Homo sapiens: one gene and its partners. The protein of the gene in region 1 purifies or fractionates together with the protein of each later gene. This does not show direct contact. Each region holds a gene or a part of one and is shown in the gene's direction. Other genes may lie near its edges.

Region 1 (3,500 bases):
ACTTGCCCATCTATTATATTTAAATGCTCCGTTAATTGATTTGATAGACTACCTTTCATTTTTTTAGACTTGACACTTCCCTAACCCATTGGGCTCCAGATTTAGAAATAACTATATAACCTTTTTTTTGTATTCTCGGGATTTGATTGATTTGTCAATTTTTAAATTTTACTCTTGTCAACTTGCAAAAACATTTTAAAATGTATTACAGCAATACACTGCAGAAATTTTAAGAAATGTATATAACCCCAGAAGGAAACTTAAGTCAACATTATGGTAATCTCTTTTCAGATTTTGCTGTTTATAAATGGGTCTACTATTATACTGTACTGTGGTATGATACCAATCTGGAACTGTTAATATTTGAACATATTTCCATATTAATATACAAATCTACATTAACATAAGTGGCTGCAATAGGATTCTATCATGTGACTCATGATACTGGCCTCTCTGACCCCCAGGGTTCCACCCAAGAATGTAGTACATTGAAAGGTAAAAATAAGTTTCCTTGGCCAGTTGTTGAACTTAATAAATCTGTGTTTACCCCTTAGTGGGCCCATGCCTAAGGTTTATACTTTGAGGTGTTCTTGATACCAATAGCATACAGAGTAAGTCTTAACGTTGTTGATAGGTTCTTGGAAACTGGGACTTCTAGCAGAATGACCTCAAATAATGTCATGCAGGTCCTCAAATAATGTCATGTCACTGTAACACAGCTGAGGGGAAAAAAATTGGTCTTGTTATGTGTCATTTCATTTAAAGCAATTTCCAAGAACCTATCAACAATGGACTGTAAGTGAGAACTTGAAATTAATGCCCTAACTATATAGCAAGTGAAGGCATTTGTGCTGTGCCTACTCTTACTCTGTATTCAGGAAAACCTAGCTGAGTTTAATTGCTTCCCTAGCATAACAAGTTATTTTGCCTCAATACACGATTAAAGACAGATTGTTTAATTTTGTCAGTGTATGATACTGATAGCGCTTTAAGTCCTTATTTAAGAGGTACGTACTGAAGTATTTGTGGGTTAATGGATATAGTTGGAGTTTGCTTGAAAGTATATGTGGGGGGCATGCGTAGGGGTGTAATACATGAAATATTAGTCATGAGTTAGTAACTGCTGAAGCCAAATTGGATGGATATGTAGGAATTCATTGTACTGTTGGCTCTGTTTATACAGGATTAATATTTTCCATACGTAAAGGTGAAACATGATTGCTCTGTTAGGTAACCAGAGTGATCTTGGGAAATAATCAGGAGATAACTGCTTTGGTGTAATACTCTACAAACACAGGTTTTCTTACATGAGTTATGTTCTAAGAGACGTTGCCCAAACCCTTACTGAACTAAAATATGTGGGTCAGAGGTGAGGGGCACGAAGTCTCAGTTTAAAAAAAAAAAAAAAGGCGTGTTTTTTTGCCCTGTTAGAAAATACTCCTCCCCTTGTATTTTACGGACCACATGGGCTAAGGGAGTGTCTAGCACTGATTGTTTTGTTTGCTTGTTTAATTTAAATGAGACAAGGTCTGGAACTCCTGTGCTCCAGGGTGCTATCCTCAGGGTATCCTCCTGACTCGGCCTCTCAAAGTATAATTACCCTTTTTTTAAGGGGACTATACTGAATAGTTCTTTAAAATACGGATTTTCAGGCACAGGGGCTCAGGTCTGTAATCCGAACACTATAGGATGCCGAGGCAGGATCCCTTGAGCCCAGTAGTTCAAGACCAGCCTGAGCGACATGAGAACCCCCATCTCTATTAAAAAAAAAAAAATTCAAAAATTAGCTGGTCTGTGGTCCTGGCTACTCGGGAGGCTGAGGTGGGAGGATCACTTGAGCCCAGGAGATGGAGGCTGCAGTGAGCCATGTTTGTGCCACTGCACTCCAGCCTAGGCAACAGAGCAAGATCCTATCTCAAGAGAAGATTATAGATTTAAAATTTTTTTAGTTTTATATATAAATACTACAATAGAAGGGTCTTGATTTACATTGCTGTTAGACTTTTAATAGAAGTAATTTGATGTGTTATAAGTAATGAAACTGAAATACTTAATTAACATTTTTTGGTTATAACCAGTGTTAGCCAGTCATGGTTTAGTACCAGCATATACCTGTTGAGTTAATACTCTAAATATTGCTAATGAGGTGTAGGTGTCTGTGGGAAAGTTGAAACTTGGAAAGGATATGCAGCTTACTTCCCCAGGGTAATCCAGCCAGTGAATAGCAGCTCTGAGATTTGAAGGCTAGTCTCTTTGCCTCTGGAGTTTGTGTTCTCCACTATGATACCTTTCTTCAGGAGCAAATTGGACTGAACTACTTAAGTGGGCTTTCTTAGTCATTTCTGTGATTTTTATGCATAAACAAACATCTATGTATAGATTTTATGATTCTGACCTTAGTTGGATATTTAATAAAAGTACAAAATTAATGTTTTGTTTTTAGGCATGAAAGATGGCCAGAAGATAACATTCCATGGTGAAGGAGACCAAGAACCAGGACTGGAGCCAGGCGATATTATCATTGTGTTAGATCAGAAGGACCATGCTGTTTTTACTCGGTAAAGACTTTTATCAACCACTCAAATTGATATCACATATTTGGGTTGTTGGTTTTGTTTTTTGTTTTTTTGTTTTTTTTAAAGTGTTTTCCATTACTCTTAGAACCTATTTCTCAGGAAGATTGTTAACCATTGTTCAGATCATAAGAGGTTGAATACATAGGATCAGATTTTTAGCTTTTTGTCTCTAAGTATGGAACGTTGAAAATGTGTTTCAATTAGATGTTTTGTGTGAACCTAAGCAGCAGATGGGTGGGGAAAACATCCCTGGACAAAAATTTGCCCTCAATCTTTGTAAAGCAATTTAAGTGCCTTAAAGCTCTCACCAGTTTTCAATCTCATTTATGATAAATTGAATTGCTTTTAATTATAAATATCCAAAAGCATCTCTGTAGGAAACTTAAATTGTAACTCAATACTAAGTATAAATTCAGGTCTACCATTTTGAGCTAAATAATGAGTATGATGAACACTGAAGCACAAGAAAGATGGATGATTAACAGCAAATGTTTGTGATCCATGGCTAACATAACACCCTCTGTGCATGCTATATTCCCAGCAACTTGGGAGGCTGAGGTGGGAGGATCACTTGAGGCCAGGAGTCCTAGCTACTGGGGAGGCTGAGGCAGAAGAGTGGCTTGAACTCAGGAGTTCAAGGTTATGATCATGCCACTGCATTCTAGCCTGGGTGACAGTAAGAACCCACCTTTTTTTTTTTTTTTTTTTAATGGAGTGGAGGTGAAATTGGGAACATCTTAAACTAGTTTAGGATTAATTAATATTTCAGCTTGGTTTGGTGGCTTACGCCTGTAATCCCAACACTTTAGGAGGCCGAGGTGGATGGTCAGGAGTTCAAGACCAGCCTAGCCAACATGGTGAAATGCCATCTCTGTTAAAAATTAAAAAATTAGCCAGGCATGGTGGCAGGCCCTGAGGCAGGAG
Region 2 (3,500 bases), on another chromosome or scaffold:
GACTGCTGGTGAGGTACTTTTCAATATATCTTATCTTTACTATACTTCTCTCTCTTCAGTGAGTTTTATACTCTTTATTTAAAAAACCTCATTACAGGATACAAGTTATTACTGTTTTCAGAGTTTAACCTAGTCTCGAGTAGATTTTATAGATGAGAAATCACTATCTGTTAAGTAAGGTTAAATTACAGAGCATAATTACAGTCTGGTTTATTTGAGGGTCTTGGTGTATAGGGAAGGAATCTTAGTCCTTTGTTGACTTGCTGTGGAAACTCAGGCAATTCTCAGAGCCTCTTTTCTTCACAAGACTAACATAATCTTGTTAGGATTGTCCAGGAACCAGAGTACAGTTGCCTGCGCTGAGTGATAATGTAGGGATGGTGGTGATAATTATTTAGCCTCCTTTTAGCAATGTGTAGAACTAGTCTTTTCTGGAAAAAGAGACTGGAAAGGTAAATCATTGATGTGTATAAGAAAAACCATTAAAGACCTCAGTAGGAGGGTCAAGTCACACGGTGATACCAGCCCACAAAATGCCCCCATCTCCAACTTCGGTACCTTAGAGTGCCAGCGACATGCGACATTGCTGGGATGAGAGCCTAGATCTCAATGGTTTGACTGCTGTATAACTTAGCGCAAACTGTTTTCATATTTTTGACCCTCATTGGTAAAATGAGATTGTTGGATTATACTATCTCTAAGGTTTCTTTCCCCACAAAGTATAAAATCTTGTTTTATATTTGTTTCAAGTAGGAAAAAGAATTGCCTTCTAAACAGCAGGCAGAAGTTAAAACAAAATGCACATACCAAATGCACATATCTCTGTTTTTCCTAGAACAGCTTTTTTTCCCTCCTCTCAATTTTTAGTTTACTATACCTTGCTACTTCATTTTATGATGGTTTAGGTAGCTTAGATGGCCAGAGTAGACTGGATATTCGAGTAGCACAATATGGGCAAGAGTGAATACATAAGTTCTTGGCTCATCTAATTGTTAGTGTTTTTATTGAATAAAACTGCCCTAGAAGTACACCCTGATTTTTTTTAAAATGAGAGTATTATTACATTATTTAAGATAATTTCATTAGGAAAGTTTATTGTAATTGGGTAACAAGCATCTCAGAATTGAGATTCCTTTGTTATATGGAAACCCCTCTTTAAAAGTTTTCTTAGACATTTTTCTCTTTAGAGTGCTAGCAAAATGTAATGACATAAATGGACATCACTGTTTTCTTGATGACTCCATTAAAGAAAATTTCTCTTTGATGGAGAAGGTTGGCTTGTTTGTGTTCTCTGTCCATTCTAGTCATCTTTTTCAATTGCTCTTCTGTTGACTCTCCTTCAACTTTGCTTTCACACTGATTCTTGGTGGTGTATATAGTTCTTCATCAGTCCTTGCCCTGGACCAGTCTTGTGTTCTCTTAACGTCTCATTTTCTTCCCCTGTTGGAATTTTCAAAATTTCCTCCGAATTAATAAAATCAGAACTTTTCAGCATTGCTAGGTACAAAAGTTTTCCATTCCCACACGAGGTTTACCCTTTCCCTCTGCATGGGCTCAGAAGATGCATGCAAGGTGGGTTCAGGAAACACATACAAATAAAACTGACACATTATAGAAAATATTGCACATGTCAAATACATATTTGTTTTCTTGAGATTGGTTTTGATTCTGGTGTTGGTAGAATAAGGTAATACGTGATCACTGGAAAAAATATTATAAGCCAGAAACATAGAAAGGGAGTCCCTCATGATCTTCAGCCTCCAGACTACTTCTGCTATGCCAGTATCATCTCTGTGAACAGTTTGGGGAATATCTCCATGTTTTCTAAGCCATGTAATTACATATTTATAGTTACTCCTTTATCATTCATTTTATTTTATAAAAATGAGAGTATGCAATGGCTTGCTTTTTTCACTTAATATATTTTTATATTATTCCACCTTATTACAAATTGGTCTCATTCTTTTCAATGGCTGATTGTATGATTATATGGATGTCCTACAGTTTAGTTCACCAGTTTCCTCCTCATTCCATTTACTTATGTTTTCAAGATTTTCAGTACTTTACAAGCATAGACATAGGGAACATCCATATACATGGATTTTGTATACTTCTGCCAGAGAGGATATTAACCTCATTGTGTTGTGTGTGTTGCACATATTATTTTCTAGCTTGTCTTTTGGTTTTGCTGCTTTTTACTAACTTTAAATATGAAAGATAAATAAAATGATGTTTCTGAGGTTGGCCACACTATCCAAGAATAGACTCAGATTTTATAAGCAATCTTTGTTTTTAATGCTGCCATTTTAAATCACCGTGAAGGTAATTAATGATTTTGGACAATGACCATCTTAAAATGGGGCATAGAATTTATTTAAGGTTTGTCACAGTAAAAACTATATTTGAGATTGAGTTTCCTTAAATTGAAATTTCAGTTTGGGTCACCATTCCTGAAACCATTTCTGATACATTGTTGAATTACAAGAGAGTTATTCAGTGATCAAATTGACACATTAGGAATGAGAATTCAACATATAGACACATGGCTCTTCAAATTCATCATCATTTTCCCGAAAACTTTTTAGGGTAAATTGAGATTATGTAAATCAAATTTTAATGTGTACTTTCATGGAATTATGAAAGAGATCCTTTTGTAAAGCAAATAATTGCCCCGTAATTCAGCTGGTAAATATGTACTTAAAATATGCAGTACACCTTTCATTACGTTGTTTAAGTCTTCAAATGAAAGTTGCAAGTAAAATCTCAGCTACATAATATTATATTTACCTAGGATATGGGGGGAGGTATTACAGATTCCTTATTCCTTGCCTGTACACCCTTGATTTGGGGAGATTTGAGAAAAATTTAAGTACAGTCTGTAATCCTATGAACTTCATATACACATACAATCTATGTGTTATATTAAGTCTTAAAACTAACCCAATAAGCTTTTTTTCTTCCTGGCTTTGTAGTTTACTTCACCTCGCAGTGGTATCTTCTGAGTAAACCATCAGTCTGTGCTTAGTTAACATGTGGTGAGTGAAGAACAATGTCTTGTGTCTTTTGTGCAAAAATCAAATGTGTTGCCTGATACTAACCATTTTGCTGGAATTCTTTTGCTCTTGTTTAATAAATATATGATTATGCTATGGGTTAATATAAGTATTTTCTGTTCATTCTGTTATATGGATCGATAATAGTTAAAAATTACTACCACCAGTAAGAGTTATATAATTTTAGGAAATTTCATTTCTTTAAAGAGTAATTGAAAGTTTGAAAATTGCTCTTTGAAATTTTGTTAAAGAATCCAAAAAAGTATTTATGTAACTTATTTTCCCTTTTGTTTTTAATTTTCCAAGAATGATCTTTGAAATTATGATTGTGAGAGAGAAATGAAAAATCATTTTCTAGATAAAAATGAAGTGGTATATTCCGTGAGAATTCAAAATCCTGTAAAGCCTGAGTCAAGGCCAGTCAGAAATAATGAAAACTAGTAAGAT
Region 3 (3,500 bases), on another chromosome or scaffold:
TGTGAACTGAATAGATTTACACAAGCCTCACCTTAGTTGAATTTTTATTAGATGAAATGGCCAGGGAGAACTAAGGATATAAATTTAGGAACACTATGTGAGCAACCAATTGTTTATGTGGCTTATGATCACAAAAGAAGATATGGAAGGAAGGAAATTGGGGGAGTTATAGATCTATGAGGAATTGGAAGTTTAGAAAGAGGAGTTTGTGCCTTTTGTTAATTTATGAAAGGTTACTGAGTACCTATTGTGTGCCTGGCACTTTGTTAGGAAGTGGGGTTAAAGTGGCAAATAAGATGGAAATTGTTCATCCTCTCATGGTACCTATAATATGTTGGGGGACATACCAGATAAGAGCTGTGATAGAGGAAGCACAGGGGGATACATAGGTGGGCTACTTGACTCAGTCTTGAAGGGTTAGGAAAGGTTTCCTTGGAGAAGCAGGTTTGTTTTGACTTGAATGATGAGGAGAGATTAGCCGTATGAGCAGAGAGGGAAAAGTGCTTGAGACAAAGGGAATAAAAGTTTTTTGGAGGAGAGAAGAGTAAGCAGCTTGTCAGTTCTGGAGGTTGGGCTGTGAGGTAGGTAGTAGTGAGAGATGAACTGGGGAGCTAAGCAGGAGGACAGATAATGAAAGGCTTTCTTGGCAAACCATGTTAAGGAATTTGAACTTTATCCCCAGGGCAGTGGAGAGCTATTTCAGTGTTGTAAGCACTTTTTATTATTATTGAAAAATCTTTTATTATAGAAATTTAAAAAAATAAATCTATTTTATTTATTCATTTATTTTGATAAGACTGGTTAATTTTGTATTTTTGGTAGAGACGGGGTTTCACCATGTTGCTGAGGCTGGCCTCGAACTTCAGGGCTCAAGCATTCACTTGCCTCGGCCTCCCAGAATGTTAGGATTACAGGCGTGAGCCCCTGTGCCCAGCCTATTATAGAAAATTTTTAACATTCATAAAACTAAAGAGGACGGTAAAATGAATTCATTTCATCCAGCTTATACAAGTATCAACATATGGCCAGTCTTGTTTTATTAGTACTCCCATTAACTCCTTCCTCCTCTATTGAATTATTTTTAGAGCAGATCCCAGATTATTATTTCTTGTGAATATTTCAGTATGTGGCCAGGCATGGTGGCTCACGCCTGTAATCCCAGCACCTTGGGAGGCCGAGGCGGGGAGATCACCTGAGGTCAGGAATTCAAGACTAGCCTGGCCAACACTATCTCTGCTAAAAATACAAAAATTTGCCCTGCTGTGGCCAGCGCCAGTAATCCCAGCTACTTGGGAGGCCAAGAATTCAGCCTCTCCCTTCAAGGAGAATCACTTGAACCAGGAAGTGGAGTTTGCAGTGAGCCGAGATGGTCCCACTGCACTCCAGCCTGGGCGACAAAGCAAGACTCCGTCTCAAAAAAAAAAAAAAAAGAAAGTTAAGGTCCCTCTATTTTCAAAAGAATGTTATCAAAACACTTTTATTACAGCTAAATAGTAGTATTTATTAATATCAAATATCCAGTCTGTTCAATTTCCTAGAATGTCGCAAACATTTCTTCCTTACCAGTTGGTTTGAGTCAGAATTCCAAACAAGATCTGCATATAAAATTATAGAGTCTCTTTTAATCTCTAGTTCTCCCTCTCTTTTTCTTGGCCATTTATTTGTCTAAGACACCAGGTCATTTACTCTGTAGAATTTTCTGCATTTTGGATTTTGTTGGAAGCATCATTTTGGTATGTTTAAACAGGTTCCTTTGTCCTCTGTATTTCCTATATAAATTGATAATTTGAGCTGAAAGCTTAATCAAATTTATTTTTTTTCTTTTGGGCAAGAATATAGGTGGAACCTATCAAATCAAGAGGCATATGATGTTAGCTTGTCTCTCTATGATGTTAAAATTGATCAGTAGGTTCAGGTGAAATGTGTGTTTTTTTTTTTATTTTAAAGAATATGGTTGCGGAGAAGTAATCAGGAGGTTGCTTTTGATGGGATTTAGTGATTGGATGTGAGTGAAAGGGGAAGAGTCTGAAGACATCCAGGTTTTCAGCTTGAGCTGGTTGAATGATAAAAAGGAAGATAGGAAGAACAGGTTGGGGGAGAGAAGTGGTTGCTTTGGGGCATGTTGAAATTGACATAAAGATGTGTTACAGTCTGGAGCTTGGGACAAAAATCTGGGCTGCATATCCTCTTATCAGTCAGTAAAACATAAAATAAATCTGGGCTGCAGATAAATATTAGTTTTTCATATATGGAGAGTTGAGAGAGTGAGTAGAATAGAGATCTTTGGATAGGACTCTGGAAAATACCACTGGATTTAGTTATCTATTGCGTTATGACAGATTACTCCAAAATGTAGCAATTTAAAACAACAGTTTGTTACCTCATAGTTTTCGTGGGTCAGAACTTTGAGTTCTGGCTCAGGGTCTCTTATGAAGTTGTAGTCAATATATTAGCCAGTGCTGCAGTCATCTGAAAGGCTTGACTGGAGCAGGAAGATCAGCTTCCACGATGACTCACATGGCTGTTGTCAGAAAGTGGCAGTTCCTTGCTGGCTGTTGGAAGGTGGCCTCATTCCTCACCAGGTAGCCTCTCCATTGAGCTGCTTAAGTGTCATCATGACAGAGCAGCTGGCTGTGATCCAAGTGAGAGCAAAGAGGAAGCCTCAATCCCTTTTATGACCTAGTCAGAGACCACCACTTCTGCCTTATTCTGTTCATTAGAGACAAGCCATTAAATTCCACTCATGCTCCTGGGGATGGGAATTTCAGACATGAGGAGGGAAATTAGGCTTTATCTTTTGAAAAGAATTTGTGGACAAATTTTAAACCACCACAATCACAATTTAAGGGATTGGCAGAGGAAAAAAGCTTGCACAGGAGAGTGAAAAGGGATGCCAGAGATGTAAGAGAAAAACTAGAAGAATGTGGCAGTCATGGATGGCAAGGTGGAAGTAGTAAATTGGCTTGAATACTGCTGAAAGGATTAAATAGATGAGATCTAAAGCATATCCATTGGATTGATGAACATCATTGATGTTCTTAGGCAGAGCAGTTTCCATGGAGTGGTAGGTATGGAATGCAGGTTGGAGTGGCTTGAAGAGTAAAGAGGAGGCAGGAAATATATGAAGCGAATGGAGGTTATTCAAGATGTTTCATTGTAGAAAGGGCAAAGAGGACATGGAATGTGGAATGGAGGGGAACAGTTTCTAAAATAGGAATATGCTTAAATGGTGTAGGGATGGGAAGCAAGGTCAATGTTAAAAATGAGGATACAGTCAGGACGCAAGGAGTATAGTAAAGATTTAGGACAATGACAGTGGGAACTGGAAAAAGGAATAGCTAAGGAATAGCTAAATATGATTTGTTTAGTCATTACCCACAAATGTTTAACCCTCTTTCTTGATTTGTATTGCTTTTGGAGAGAGGGTTAGAAACTGAATTAGTAAGTTACCTGGGCTACTCAAGATATTCCTTGTAAAAGGAGTCGTTAGAGAAATCATA
Region 4 (3,500 bases), on another chromosome or scaffold:
AGTAGGAAGCTGTCAGACTTGTGGTGGCAGATACAAGTTTTCCAAAATTCTAATTTTCACTTGAAAGCTTGAATTCTATCACATGCAACAAATAATGTCAGTGGTTTTCCCCAGAGTGGCAGCCTCACTTTGTTAATTTTCAAAAATGTCTGCCAAATACCCAGGTCTGAGTAACTGACCGTGGTTTGTCACTCAAGTTTCCTTTCAAGTAAAAATGGTGTCCTTGAAAAAAATGACTTGATTAGCTTGCAACTCAAACAGTAATATGCTTTTTTTTTTTTTTTTGGCAATAACCATTGTACTTCAGTATGCAGAAGGGCTTTAAGTGTACTTAGTATTTCATCACACAGTGCATTAAAAAGATTTCTACTGCCTTGATTTGTGCTAAGGGCCACCATTACTTGTGCACTGTCTTGAAGATGTCAACACAGTGAAAAAGTCCAGTAATGTCTTGGTATTATTATAAAAGGAGTTTTGACTTTGCAGGGCCCCTGAGAGGCTCTGGGAGATCCTCAGGGGTACGTGGATCTTACTTTGAGAACCAGTGCTCTGAATTTATTCTGAGCATCATAATATGTATATATAATTATGTATATTTAAAATGTTTTAAAAACAAATATGAATACACTGTTGCATAACAGTTATGATTAGCAGAATTGTGTAGCTGTTGTGATTAGCAGTGTACAAAAAGGATCTGTTTGCGACCAGCCTTGCCAACCTGGTGAAAACCTGTCTCTATTAGAAATACAAAAATTAGCTGGGTGTAGTGGTGGGCACCTGTAATCCCAGCTACTCAGGAGGCTGAAGCAGGAGAATTGCCTGAACCTGGGAGACAGAGGTTGGAGTGAGCCGAGATCGTGCTATTGCACTCCCACCTGGGTGACAAGAGCGAGACTCCCTTTCAAAAAAAAAAAAAAGATCTGACTCTGGGTATGAAATTTGACACTACCCTGGATTCATAACTCTCCTGTCAGTAGGACGCCATAGTAAAATTTCCCTGGGGACTGTATCAGGTTACAGAGAGCTGTTGGACTCCCCCGCCATGTGCCGCACATGTGAATGCTGTAAAGGCAGAATGCTGGTTGCAGATCACAATATCAGGTACACTTTCCAGTAGCCCCTACATGGCTGAGGGAGAGAGTGCTTCAGGGAAATACTTCGTAGGTGACTGTAGAGACTCTGGAAGGAGAAAGCATCATGGATAGATCTGAAAGCTAAGGTCTTCTCAGAAGCTAGAGTTACTGAAGAGTGAGTTTCTACCTGGGAGAAGACGGCCTCTCCCTTCGAGTGCCTTCCACTTTGTGTCCTGGTGGCAGCAACTTTTTGTTTTCTGCCTTAGAGCTCATGGTGACACCCAGCACTGCCGGAAGGCTCTGCACCGGGCCGTCCAGTGCACCAGTGACTACCCAGAGCACGTCTGCGAAGTGTTACTCACCATGGAGAGGACAGAAGGTGGGACCCCCAGCTCTCTTCTGGCTTGGAGCCTAACCCATTTGCTGTTTGGTCTCAAGTAGGAGCATCTGGTTACAGTCTGGGGACAGACTGTGTTTATGCTGCCACCTTAGGTGGTGCCCTATGATTAGACTGTCACAAGTGTCCTGAAAATGAGTCCTCCTGCAGCTCTTCTCAAATTCTGCAGCTACAAGGAGGACTCTGTGATGTCACTGTAGCACAGGGTTCTAATTCTCTGTGGGGGGGACTGTGCGTTATACAATGTTTAGGGGCATCCCTGGCTTCTAGCCCTGAAATGCCAGTAGCAGCTTCACCACCACAACCAAACATGACAACCAGAAATGTCTCTTAACATTGCCAAATGTCTCTTGATGGGCAGGATCCCTCCTTTGAGAGTCACTGTGCTCTAGTACAACATCTATCCAACAAAGGAGCTTGGAGAGGCAAATGGCTCAATGTGTCCTTTGCATCCCTTGTTAAATTTCAGAGCCTTCAGTGTTAGCTAGAACCAATAGAAAAATAATGTGAACTTATCTGTGGGTATTGGTCTGGATTTTGGGTATGGACCCCTCAGAACTGGCTTGCAAAGACCACCAAAAAATAAGAAATAAATGCCTCAACATTTGAGTAGCTCTTAAAATTCTTCAGTCTTAATATAAATGTACTTTTGCATTAGAACGTTCGTTTTCATATTCTTTGCCATTTAGAGCCCTTAATAGATCATATTCTGGTTTTCAAGTCTCTCCTGAAAGGAGAGGGACATTTTAAACCCACTTAGAAGGACTATTTGAATTCTGAACTTCAAGCCTACAGGGATTACATTTTCTTATTGTTTGATGGGAGAGATCTCTTCTGGAGGTACAGAGAAATTAAGAAAAATTTATGTGATTGTATCCTTCAAAATCCTAAAGAGTGAAAGTTTTGCTTCTCTTTCTTTCAAGGTTCTTTAGAAGATTGGGATATAGCTGTTCAGAAAACTGAAACCCGATTAGCTCGTGTCAATGAGCAGAGAATGAAGGTAATGACAATGTTTGAAGTCTTTGGCACCTCTGGTAGCTATTTTGGCTCAGTTTGGTATGGATGTTTCTTGTCAAGATGTTTTACATTTTCCTAAGTGTCTTTTACTCAGTATTAATTATAAAATATTTAGATCAATGCTTAAACCTGTCTTGTGTCATTTTTACATTGTTCTAAAACATCAGCCCCAATATTAAGTACTTGTTTCATTTAGTGAGGGAATTTTGGCTCTAAAATTTACGAGAATTGATGAAAAAGAATAAAGAAGAGCCTCACTTAGCCTAGTGAGTGGAACATGAACACCCCAACTTATTTAGGGCTTCAGTTTTATGGATTTTTTTTTTTTTGAGACGGAGTCTCGCTCTGTTGCCCAGGCTGGAGTGCAGTGGCATGATCTCGGCTCACTGCAAGCTCTGCCTCCCGGGTTCACGCCATTCTTCTGCCTCAGCTTCTCGAGTAGCTGGGACTACAGGTGCCCGCTACCACACCTAGCTAATTTTTTGTATTTTTTTAGTAGAGATGGGGTTTCACCATGTTAGCTAGGATGGTCTCGATCTCCTGACCTCGTGATCCACCCATCTCGGCCTCCCAAAGTGCTGGGATTACAGGCGTGAGCCACCGCGCCCGGCCAGTTTTATGGATTTTTTTGCCTTCCTTTTGGTGAGTAATGATTAGGGTGAGGAAATTGCTAATGTAACAGAGACATCAGATCCAGAATTCCAACGAACCTGAATGAGCCCTGGTGTGGAACAGCCGTGAGCCTGTCCACGTTTTTCTCCTGATCTCTGCTTTTCATTAGTAATGAATTTCCACTCCTTCTCCCCTTTCATGACAAATCAGTACAGTGAATGTAATTGCCACATCCAGCGATGCATCATCTTCCCACTTTTCTAGGCTGCAGAGAAGGAAGCAGCCCTTGTGCAGCAAGAAGAAGAAAAGGCTGAACAACGGAAAAGAGCTCGGGCTGAGAAGAAAGCGTTAAAAAAGAAGAAAAAGATCAGAGGCCCAGAGAAGCGCGGAGCAGATGAGGA
Region 5 (3,500 bases), on another chromosome or scaffold:
CTCTATAAATTTGCCTTTTCTGGATATTTCATATAAATCATACAATGTGTGATCTCTTATGCCTGGCTTATTTCCTTAGTATAACGTTTTTGAGGTTCATCCATGAAGTATTAATTGCATGTATCAGTGGTTCATTGCTTTTTATTGCTGAATAGTATTGCACTGTATGGATATATCACATTTTGCCTATCCATAATACTGCTGTGAACATTCTCCTACAAGTCTTTGTATGGACATTTATTTTCATTTTTCTTGGGTAAATACCCAGGAGTGGAATTGCTGGGTTTATGGTAGTTTTATGTTTAACTTACTACATTTTTTTCACATGTATATCCAGTTGTCCCAGCACCATTTGTTCAACAAACAGTTCTTTCCCTAAAGAAGTGTTGTGGCAGTTTTTTTTTGTTTTTTTTTTTTTTTGCTTGAGATTTGTTAAGCTTCCCTCTCCCTGTGCGTGGCCTAGAAACACTCTGGACAGCGAGTTAGAGCACTCATAGGACTCCCCTCATTTGTTTCCTTTCTCAAGGATCACTGCCCTGCACTGCCTTTTGCTCAGTATCTGAAAACCACTATTGTATTATATGTTGCCTGGTTTCCTGGTTGATGAAGGCAGGAAAATAAATGTGTTCCCCATTATTTCATCATGTCCAGAAGCACAATTAGTCTTGCTTACATTTCAACTTTGAAAATTTACTTCTCTTTTTACTCGTTAATTTCTAAGTTTTCTAAAAACAAAAAATCCTGCTTTTATAACCTGGAAAAATACAAATTATTTTTAATTTAAAAAGAAGCAGAAGGAGCAGCATCCTGGACATAACCATCAGCAGCACAGTATCGTTATTCTTGGAATTCATAAGCATGACATTGTAGATGTGATTTAGGAAACGTTATTTTATAAAATTATTGTAATTTTGAGGGTATTGATTCTATTTAATTATCTCTTTTAAAGAATGCTTGTAAAATGTGTGGTTTTTGGATTTCAGGCGATTGTGGAAAAATGTGACAGACTCGCTGAGAGAATCTGAAATTGATAAGGCCACAGAGCATAAGCATACCCTGGAAGAACGTCAGAGGACTGAAGAAAGGCATCGTACTGAAACAGGCACACCTTGGAAAACCAAATATTTTATTAAAGAGGTATGCTGTACATGTGTTCAAGATAAAAATGTATCTACTTGGCTGAGAACTTTAGCTTACTAGGCTTTGTTGAATTGCTATCACTTATACATCTTTATTTTTAAAAGTAGTATGGCTGTATATAAATACCAACTGTTTTTGAGACCAGCCTGGGTAACCTATAGCAAGACTCTGTCTCAAAAAAAAGGCAGATATACCAAGAACAGATTCTAAGAAAGAAGAGTTTCTAAGTGAGAACATCTATATATCATTAAAAATGAGCTAGGGGGTGGCCGGGCTCGGTGGCTCATGCCTGTAATCCCAGTACTTTGCGAGGCCGAGGCAGGCGGATCACCTGAGGTCAGGAGTTCGAGACCAGCCTGACCAACATGGAGAAACCCAGTCTCTACTAAAAATACAACATTAGCCAGGTGTGGTGGTACATGCCTGTAATCCCAGCTACTCGGGAGGCTGAGACAGGAGAATTGCTTGAACCCAGGAGGCGGAGGTTGCAGTGAGCCAAGATTGCGCCATTGCACTCCAGCCTGGGCAACAAGAGTGAAACTCTGTCTCCAAAAAAAAAAAAAAGAAAAATGAGCTGGGGGGCCTGGCGCGGTGGCTCACGTCTGTAATCCCAGCACTTTGGGAGGCCGAGGCGGGCGGATCATGAGGTCAGGAGTTTCAGACCAGCCTGGCCAACATGGTGAAACCCCCATCTCTACTAAAAATACAAAAATTAGCCGGGTATGGCACGTGCCTGTAATCCCAGCTACTTGGGAGGCTGAGACAGGAGAATTGCTTAAACCAGGGAGGCGGAGGTTGCAGTGAGCCAAGATTGTGCCACTGCACTCCAGCCTGGCTGACAGAGCAAGACTCCGTCTTGGGGGAAAAAAAAAAGGAAAGAAAAAAAATGAGTTCTGGGGTGCCAGTGGAGACAGGGAGAACAGTTAGTACCTTCCCGATCATTTCTCTGTACTCCACCTGCTGCCCATAACTCTGTGAGTGAGGCTCAATCTGTAGCATCTTGGCGAAATTGGCAAAATTGCTACAAATGGTTCTTGCAAAATTAAATGTTCATGGGTCACAAACTAGATCCTCCCATACCATGTCTTCTCACCTAAATCCTAGCTAAACCACAGGCATCGTTTGATGTCTTAATCACAAAGACTTTATTCCTTCACAAAAACTTGTTTTTGAATGTGAAAATAGAATTCCATTTCAGTGAAGGTGTTGCTTCTAGTTTTGGTTACTGATTTTGATAATATTAGAGGGATGATTCTTTATCTTTTTATTTGTTTCAGGGAGATGGCTGGGTTTATCATAAACCACTTTGGAAAATAATTCCAACAACACAACCAGCAGAGTGACACATACTATCTAAAACTCGACCAAATGAGGTTCTTCTCTGTTTACCCTAAATCCTCCCAGAATGGAGTCATTGCACTGAGTGACCTGCTTCCTGATTGCGCAGACTGAAACTAGCTAAACCTGAATGTACCTACTAGGGCACCATAATACTGCAGCAAGACCAAAGTGGTAAAGAAACACAGTGGACCTTTTACCAACCTGTTCATGTGATGTGAGCAATACCATCTTAAAACTTGTTACCTGAATCAGTAGATGAATCTTTTATCCAGTTCTTGCTCCTAAAGTTAAGTTTGAATCCCCTATTTTTGCACAGGGGCAGCAGATACACACAACAATGAGAACTCAGTGACTTTGATTTCTTTGTAGTGAAAAGTGAAGTCTCCGTTTCAGAGTTTGTGTCTTTCTTTCTGTCCATAACTGAAGTATTCACTACTCTTGTAAACCAACCAAGAGGAGGAGAAAGATGACCCAGAAGTGGATTCAGCCATTGTGCCTGAAATCAGTGTTTAAAAAAAAAAATCAACCAGGTTGTGGTAACAAGGCATTCTATTTCTTCAAAAAGACTGTATGCCTGTGTCTGAGGAACTTACCTATTATCCACCTCTGTTGGAACTCTCTTTTAAAAAGTACATTTATAGATTGATCAGAATTATAACCATGGAGAATTTTTTCTTCTGAGCATTTTAATATACTTGAAAACAACATTGACTTGAAAAATTTCAGAACATTTTTCAGTACCTAGTTTTATTAAATATTACACTTGAGAGACACTTTTTAAAAATGTGTTAATGTCAATATGATGAGATTTTAGCCTTTCTCCAGAACTAAGGCATTAAAGAAAATAGCAAATATTAAAAAATAAAACTGTTACTTTTTTCCTTCTTTCTTTTCACCTTTAGGTTAATATCCAGTATTATGTGTTATCCCTTTGGATAAGTATGCTTTATTTTACCTCTGTTAAAAATTAAAATAAATGATTCTATTCATATTTGTCAGTAATTCAAAACTTATATGTG
Region 6 (3,500 bases), on another chromosome or scaffold:
AGGTTGCAGTGAGCTGGGATCGCACCGTTGCACTCCAGCCTGGGCAACAGAGTGAGACTCCATCTCAAAAAAAATAAAAAATAGGTGAATACTACAATAAATATGGTGCTTTACCATGAAAAAGACCTGAAGTTTATTTGTGAAAGTGGGCATCAAAGCCAGGCGCGGCGGCTCACGCCTGTAATCTCAGCACTTTGGGAGACTGAGGCAGGTGGATCACGAGGTCAGGAATTGGAGACACACCTGGCCAACATGGTGAAACCCCATCTCTACTAAAAAATACAAAAATTAGCCGTGTGTAGTGGCACGCACCTGTAATCCCAGCTACTTGGGAGGCTGAAGCAGAAGAATTGCTTGAACCTGGGAGGTGGAGGTTGCAATGAGCCAAGATCATGCCACTGCAATCCAGCCTGAGCGACAGAGCAAGACTCTGTCTTGCGGGGGGAAAAGGTGGGCATCAGAAGGGTTGCAGCTTGAGGACTACTATGGAATGGTAGAAGGAGAGTCATCCACAATCAGAGGGAACATTACACTCGTTGAGGATGGGTATGGCTCACAACACACGCTGTAAACTGAGGTCATTGGCAGATAGGTGTTTGAGATGTGTGTGTTTTATGTATCCTGTGTAGCTGGGTGAGGCTTTCCGTATTCACCTAGTGTTTCTCATGGATGGAGTCACATATAAGCAAACATGAACTTCTCATTATAATCAAATTGTTCCCTAATATTTCAGTTGCACTGAAATAAATTGATATTTTCAAAACAAGTATTCTAGCAGAACTACTGGCTTTTGACCCAAGTTCTCATGGTATAACTCATGCTAGTACCAAATCTGTAGCTCTTTGTCTCACATTGTAATAACATAGTTGGTTTCCAGTAACCTGGTGAGGAAAGACATTTCTTTTGGGGGTGCGGGTGTTGATTGCATCTGGCATGTGGCATTCTCAGAATAAAGAGGATCAGTTCAGCCATCCAAAAGCAGCAGAAGTGAGGTAGCAGTTAGGACCCTGGAGCAGAGACCTTTCCTGCCAAGGAGTGGACTAATGACATTGCATTGGTTTTGACAGGTACTTCTAAGTCAGGAGTACAATACAAAGGACATGTGGAGATCCCCAATTTGTCTGATGAAAACAGCGTGGATGAAGTGGAGGTTTGTGCTTCATAACTCCTAATCCGAGTCCTCTATATCCTCTTATTCTCAGATGAGAAAAGTGACCTGTCATTCAGGATTCATAGCCCAGGCTTGGTCCAAGCATTCAGAACCCTAGCCTGCAGATAATTTTCTAGGCATATGGTGCCATTGGAAACTTCTAGAGCAATTTGCACTTCTTTAATTTCTTCACTTTAGCTAGTGACATGGGTTCTAACTAACATTAGCCACTTGACAGAGAGGACTCAAGAAGGAACACTAATGGGGATTGTACGAATACCGCAGTACTCATGCATTTCCTTTGGAAATGTCAGCAGTCACCTGATTGCTCAGCCCCCACATTCCATAATGAGGGTGCCCCTCAAGTTATTTACCACCTACTTCTCATCTTTCACCCAGATTAGTGTGAGCCTTGCCAAAGATGAGCCTGACACAAATCTCGTGGCCTTAATGAAGGAAGAAGGGGTGAAACTTCTAAGAGAAGCAATGGGAATTTACATCAGCACCCTCAAAACAGGTATCCCTTGAGTAGTTCTGTATGCCTTAAGGAGGTAGTTTCCACCTGTTAGACTCTGGTTAAGGGCCTGGACAGTCCTTTCTTTGGCAAATGGGTAAAGATTTGGGGGGAGGGGGCTTATTTCATCTTAAAGTCAGTCCATAAGCTCGGAGTAAGGGAAAGATCTGGAGCTGTGTTGCCTAATAATGATGGTTGAGCATTTTAGATGTGGCTAGACCAAACTGAAATGTACTGTGATGGCCTGGCGCGGTGGCTCACACTTGTAATCCCAGCACTGTTGGATGCTGAGGTGGGCTGATTGCCTGAGCTCAGGAATTTGAGACCAGCCTGGGCAACATGGCGAAACCCTGTCTCTACAAAAAATACAAAAATTAGCTGGATGCGGTGGCCCATGCCTGTAATCCCAGCTACTCGGGAGGCTGAGGTGGGAGAGTGGCTTGAGCCCAGGAGGCAGGGAGGTTGCATTGAGCTGAGATCATGCCACTGCACTCCAGCCTGGATGACCAAAAAACACAAGAGATGTGCTGTGAGTATAAATTACACTACGGGCTGGGCACAGTGGCTCACACCTATAATCCCAGCCCTTTGGGAAGCCGAGGTGGGCGGATCACCTGAGGTCGGGAGTTCGAGACCAGCCTGACCAATAGAGAAACCCCATCTCTACTAAAAATACAAAATTAGCCGGGCATGGTGGTGCATGCTTGTAATCCCAGCTACTCAAGAGGCTGAGGCAGGAGAATTGCTTGAACCCAGGAGGTAAAGGTTGCGGTGAGCCAAGAACGCGCCATTGCACTCCAGCCTGGGTGACAGAGGGAGACTCCATCTCAAAAAAAAAAAAAACAAAAAAAAAACTGTATTTGAGGCTCACATTATATTTCTAATGGACAGCGCTAATCTAAAGACTTGGCATCTCTGGACTCATTACTTGAATACAGTCTGGACTATCTTTGATATGCACTCTCCAGGGATATTTAGATGCTTAGAATAGAAGTCAGCTCAGCTTTCCCCTGGGATTCCATTTCTGCCAGTGTATTCTGATCTTGGTGTTGGAATATGTATAATAACCATCAAAGAAGGTGATGGAAGGTGATAGACACCTTTTTGGGGAGGACCAGTACACCAGTGCCATAACTAGTTGTGGCTTTTCTGCAGAGGTAAGGCAGAGTGGAGGAAAGGCACTAACCATGCATCCATAGGTGCTGGGTAGATTACCCACTCTTGAAGTCATCAAAGTGCCACGGCGTTCACGCCATCCTTCCATAGTAGACCTCACATGCACTTAATATGTTATAATGTTTCCAGTTGAGTCAGGATAAGCTTTTAAAAATAATCCCAGTGGCCAGGTGCAGTGGCTCACACCTGTAATCCCAGCACTTTTGGAGGCCGAGGCTAGTAGATCACAAGGTCAGGAGATCAAGACCATCCTGGCCAACATGGTGAAACCCCGTCTCTACTAAAAATACAAAAATTAGCTGGGCATGGTGGTGCACGCCTATAATCCGAGCTACTCAGGAGGCTGAGGCAGGAGAATAGCTTGAACCAGGGAGTCAGAGGTTGCAGTGAGTTGGAGTGCAGGCTGCACTCCAGCCTGGTGACAGAGCAAGACTCCATCTCAAAAAAAAAATAATAATAATCCCAGTGAACATACTGTATTCTATAGCATATACCCAGGTACCAGTCTGGCATAGGCCAAAAGTAAAGATGTAAAAATAGCCTCTTCCTTTTCTGGTCATAACCTCATTCTGTGGTAGGATGGCTGTGTTTGTCAAGCTGTAATGAAACTCCAGATCTCAGCTACTAAGAAGTAACTTCCATGAGCTGGAATTTTATCTT
Region 7 (3,500 bases), on another chromosome or scaffold:
CTGCCAAACTTTCCACAGTGGCTGCATTTTACATCCCACCAACAGTATATGAGGATCCCACCATCTCTACATCCTCATCAGCACCTACTATTTTCTGGTTTTTTCATAGTAGCCATCTTAATGGGTGTGAGATGATATTTCATTGTGGCTTTGATTTATATTTCTGTAATGATTAAGTGATGTTGAGCATCTTTTCATATGCTTATTGGCCACTTGTATATCTTCCTTGGAGAACTGTCTATTAAAATCCTTTTTTTTTTTAATTTAATTTTTTTTAAGAGACAGGATCTCTCTATGTTGCCCAGGCTAGTCTTGAACTCCTGGGCTCAAGGAATCCTCCTACTTTGGCCTCAAAGTATTGAGATTACAGGCATGAGCCACGGTACCCAGCCTATTCAAATTATTTGCCCATTTTTGAATCTGGTTGCTTGTTTTTGAGTCTTAAGAGTTCTCTGTATATTCTAGATATTAATTCCTTATCAGAAATATAATTTGCAAATATTTTCTCCCGTTCTATGGGTTGTTCTTTTATTCTGTTGTTAGTATCTTTGGTTTTGGTTTTGGGTTTGGGTGTTTTTTTTGTTTGTTTTTTGTTTTTTTCCGAGATGGAGTCTTACTCTGTTACCCAGGCTGGAGTGCATTAGTGCAATCTCAGCTCACTGCAACCTCTGCCTCCCAGGTTCAAGTGATTCTCCTGCCTCAGCCTCCCAAGTAGCTGGGATTACAGGCGCACGCCACCATGCCTAGCTAATTTTTGTATTTTTAGTATAGACAGGGTTCCACCATGTTGACCAGGCTGGTCTTGAACTCCTGACCTCAGGTGATCTGCCCACCACAGCCTCCCAAAGTGCTGGGATTACAGGCGTGAGGCACTGCACCTGGCCTGTTGTTAGTATCTTTTGATGTACAAAAGTTTTTAATTTTCTTTTTTTTTTTTTTTTTTTGAGACGGAGTCTCGCTCTGTCGCCCAGGCTGGAGTGCAGTGGCGGGATCTCGGCTCACTGCAAGCTCCACCTCCCGGGTTCACGCCATTCTCCTGCCTCAGCCTCCCAAGTAGCTGGGACTACAGGCGCCCGCCACTACGCCCAGCTAATTTTTTGTATTTTTAGTAGAGACGGGGTTTCACCGTTTTAGCCGGGATGGTCTCGATCTCCTGACCTCGTGATCCGCCCGCCTCGGCCTCCCAAAGTGCTGGGATTACAGGCGTGAGCCACCGCGCCCGGCCAAGTTTTTAATTTTCATGAAGTCAGATTTGTCTATTTTTTCTTCAGTTGCCTGTGACTTTGGTGTCATATCTAAGAAATCATTACCAAATTCAGTGTTGTGAAACTTTTGCCCTATGTTTTCTTCTGAGTTTTATAGTTTTTGCTCTTATGTTTAGATCTTTGACCCACTTTGAGCTAATTTGTTTTGTTTTTTATTTTTTGTTTGTGTTTTTTTGAGACAGAGTCTCACTCTGTCATCCAGGCTGATGCAATCGTAGCTCACTGCAGCCTCAATTCCTGGGCTCAAGTGATCCTCCTACTTTGGCCTCCCAGAGTACTGGGATTACATGTGTGAGCCACTGTGCCCAGACTTTTATTCTGTTTGTATCATAAATGGAATTGTTGGCCTAATTTCCTCTTCTTATTGTTCATTGTTAGTGTATAGAAACACAACTGGTTTTGGTTACGTGCATATGATGCGTAGTGCTTAAGTCAGGGTATTAGGGTGTCCGTCACCCGAGTACGATACATGTTTGTTAACCTTACTCCTTTATCAAACGTTGAACTTAATTCCTTCTATCTAACTGTATGTTTGTACCATTCAACCCACTTTTCTATATTTTTTTGAGATAGATTCTTACCCTGTCACCCAGGTTGGAGTGCAGAGGCATGGTCATCATGGTTCACTGTAACCTCTGCCTCCCAGGCTAGAGTGATTCTCCCACCAAAGCCTCCCAAGTAGCTGGGAACACAAGGTGTGCACCACCGTGCCTGGCTAATTTTTGTACTTTTGTAGAGACGGAGTATCACCATGTTGCCCAGGCTGGTCTCGAACTCCTGAGCTCAAGGGATCCTCCTGCCTCAGCCTCCCAAAGTGCTGGCCAACCCACTGTTCTCTATCTGAATATTTTCTCTGATTGTGTTGAAAGTTTTTATATTTGTAAAATTCTGAGCAGCAGAAACAGAGTAAACATGGGATTTTTTTTATATAATTTTTTTTTTTTTTTGAGATGGAGTTTTGCTCTTGTTGCCCAGGCTGGAGTGCAATGGCGCATTCTTGGCTCACCACAACCTCCGCCTCCCGGGTTCAAGCAATTCTCCTGCCTCGGCCCCCCGAGTAGCTGAGATTACAGGCATGCGCCACCATGCCTGGCTTATTTTGTATTTCTAGTAAAGACAGGGTTTCACCATGTTGGTCAGTCTGGTCTCGAACTCCTGACCTCAGGTGATCCGCCTGCCTCAGCCTCCCAAAGTGCTGGGATTTACAGGCGTGAGCCATGCGCCCGGCTGGTATTTTTTTTTTTTTTTGTCTGGAGATGGAGTCTTGCTCTGTTGCCCAGACTGTAGTGCATGATCTCAGCTCACTGCAACCTCTGCCTCCCGGGCCCAACCGATTCTTCCACCTCAGCCTCCCGAGTAGCTGGGACCACAGGCGCACACCACCATGCCTGGCTCATTTTTTGTATTTTTTTAGTAGAGACGGGGTTTCACCATGTTGCCCAGGCTGGTCTCGAACTCCTGAACTCAGGCAATCCGCCCGCCTCAGCTTCCCAAAGTGCTAGGATTGCAGGCGTGAGCCACCGCACCCGGCCGGGATGTTTTAATAATACTCTTGTCCCCGAAGTCTGAGCCAAGCTGTTTTGAAGGCTAGCCTGGTGTTACTTGATACCCAGAGCTGGCCATGTCTGCTGTGTATTTGTTACACGTAACGTGCTTTTCAAAGTGTGCCTGGTCTGAGCAAATACAGGGCATCAGAGGCTGGTGAAGGGGAAGCATCTCTAACCCTTGAAAGCTGCGTCTCCTGGCAGCAGTCCCTGGCACAGCCCTGGGCCCAGGAGAGCTCTCAGCCACATACCTGAGAGAACCAGCCTAGCCATGGGAACTCTCTTGTAGGAACCCACTTCCAGCGGGTGATCCCAGAAGATGGCCCTGCAGCTCAGAACCCAGAAAATGTCAAAAGGCTTCTCTTCTGCACCGGCAAAGTGTATTATGACCTCACCCGGGAGCGCAAAGCACGCGACATGGTGGGGCAGGTGGCCATCACAAGGATTGAGCAGGTGAGGGCAGGTGGTGCCATCAGGGTGTCCCCCCAGCGGGGGTCAGGGCTCTGGTGCCTTCACAGAACAGCCTTGCTTGGGGTGTGGCCCTCAGGTTCCTGACCTTCCCTGCTCGGAACACCAGTTTCCCTTTGCTGGATCTTGCCTGCCCTCTGAGTTTCCTCTTTTTGATCTGACCCCTGCTGTCTCCTAGCTGTCGCCATTCCCCTTTGACCTCCTGCTGAAGGAGGTGCAGAAG

What was found.
Region 2: the proteins of DNAJA1 (region 1) and GOLGA4 purify together in Homo sapiens (affinity purification with mass spectrometry; 2 studies listed by BioGRID and IntAct, with this or other methods). This does not show direct contact.
Region 3: the proteins of DNAJA1 (region 1) and OSBPL9 purify together in Homo sapiens (affinity purification with mass spectrometry; 3 studies listed by BioGRID and IntAct, with this or other methods). This does not show direct contact.
Region 4: the proteins of DNAJA1 (region 1) and SART3 purify together in Homo sapiens (affinity purification with mass spectrometry; 2 studies listed by BioGRID and IntAct, with this or other methods). This does not show direct contact.
Region 5: the proteins of DNAJA1 (region 1) and OSBPL11 purify together in Homo sapiens (affinity purification with mass spectrometry; 3 studies listed by BioGRID and IntAct, with this or other methods). This does not show direct contact.
Region 6: the proteins of DNAJA1 (region 1) and AHSA1 purify together in Homo sapiens (affinity purification with western blotting; 2 studies listed by BioGRID, with this or other methods). This does not show direct contact.
Region 7: the proteins of DNAJA1 (region 1) and OGDH fractionate together in Homo sapiens (co-fractionation; one large-scale study listed by BioGRID). This does not show direct contact.

What each region holds. Positions count from the first base shown.
Region 1 is NC_000009.12:33,031,773-33,035,272, forward strand, and holds part of DNAJA1 (dnaJ homolog subfamily A member 1), read left to right. Parts: intron 1-2,443; coding exon 2,444-2,558; intron 2,559-3,500.
Region 2 is NC_000003.12:37,358,271-37,361,770, forward strand, and holds part of GOLGA4 (golgin subfamily A member 4), read left to right. Parts: intron 1-2,972; coding exon 2,973-3,002; 3' UTR 3,003-3,035; intron 3,036-3,500. UniProt on the Homo sapiens protein: Involved in vesicular trafficking at the Golgi apparatus level. May play a role in delivery of transport vesicles containing GPI-linked proteins from the trans-Golgi network through its interaction with MACF1. Involved in endosome-to-Golgi trafficking.
Region 3 is NC_000001.11:51,620,092-51,623,591, forward strand, and holds part of OSBPL9 (oxysterol-binding protein-related protein 9), read left to right. Parts: intron 1-2,380; exon of another isoform or gene 2,381-2,453; intron 2,454-3,500. UniProt on the Homo sapiens protein: Interacts with OSBPL11 to function as lipid transfer proteins.
Region 4 is NC_000012.12:108,530,174-108,533,673, reverse strand, and holds part of SART3 (spliceosome associated factor 3, U4/U6 recycling protein), read left to right. Parts: intron 1-1,339; coding exon 1,340-1,452; intron 1,453-2,393; coding exon 2,394-2,470; intron 2,471-3,363; coding exon 3,364-3,500. UniProt on the Homo sapiens protein: U6 snRNP-binding protein that functions as a recycling factor of the splicing machinery. Promotes the initial reassembly of U4 and U6 snRNPs following their ejection from the spliceosome during its maturation.
Region 5 is NC_000003.12:125,529,498-125,532,997, reverse strand, and holds part of OSBPL11 (oxysterol-binding protein-related protein 11), read left to right. Parts: intron 1-983; coding exon 984-1,137; intron 1,138-2,417; coding exon 2,418-2,483; 3' UTR 2,484-3,500. UniProt on the Homo sapiens protein: Plays a role in regulating ADIPOQ and FABP4 levels in differentiating adipocytes and is also involved in regulation of adipocyte triglyceride storage. Weakly binds 25-hydroxycholesterol. Interacts with OSBPL9 to function as lipid transfer proteins.
Region 6 is NC_000014.9:77,461,093-77,464,592, forward strand, and holds part of AHSA1 (activator of 90 kDa heat shock protein ATPase homolog 1), read left to right. Parts: intron 1-1,067; coding exon 1,068-1,150; intron 1,151-1,549; coding exon 1,550-1,667; intron 1,668-3,500. UniProt on the Homo sapiens protein: Acts as a co-chaperone of HSP90AA1. Activates the ATPase activity of HSP90AA1 leading to increase in its chaperone activity.
Region 7 is NC_000007.14:44,704,127-44,707,626, forward strand, and holds part of OGDH (2-oxoglutarate dehydrogenase complex component E1 isoform 1 precursor), read left to right. Parts: intron 1-3,098; coding exon 3,099-3,262; intron 3,263-3,455; coding exon 3,456-3,500. UniProt on the Homo sapiens protein: 2-oxoglutarate dehydrogenase (E1o) component of the 2-oxoglutarate dehydrogenase complex (OGDHC). Participates in the first step, rate limiting for the overall conversion of 2-oxoglutarate to succinyl-CoA and CO(2) catalyzed by the whole OGDHC.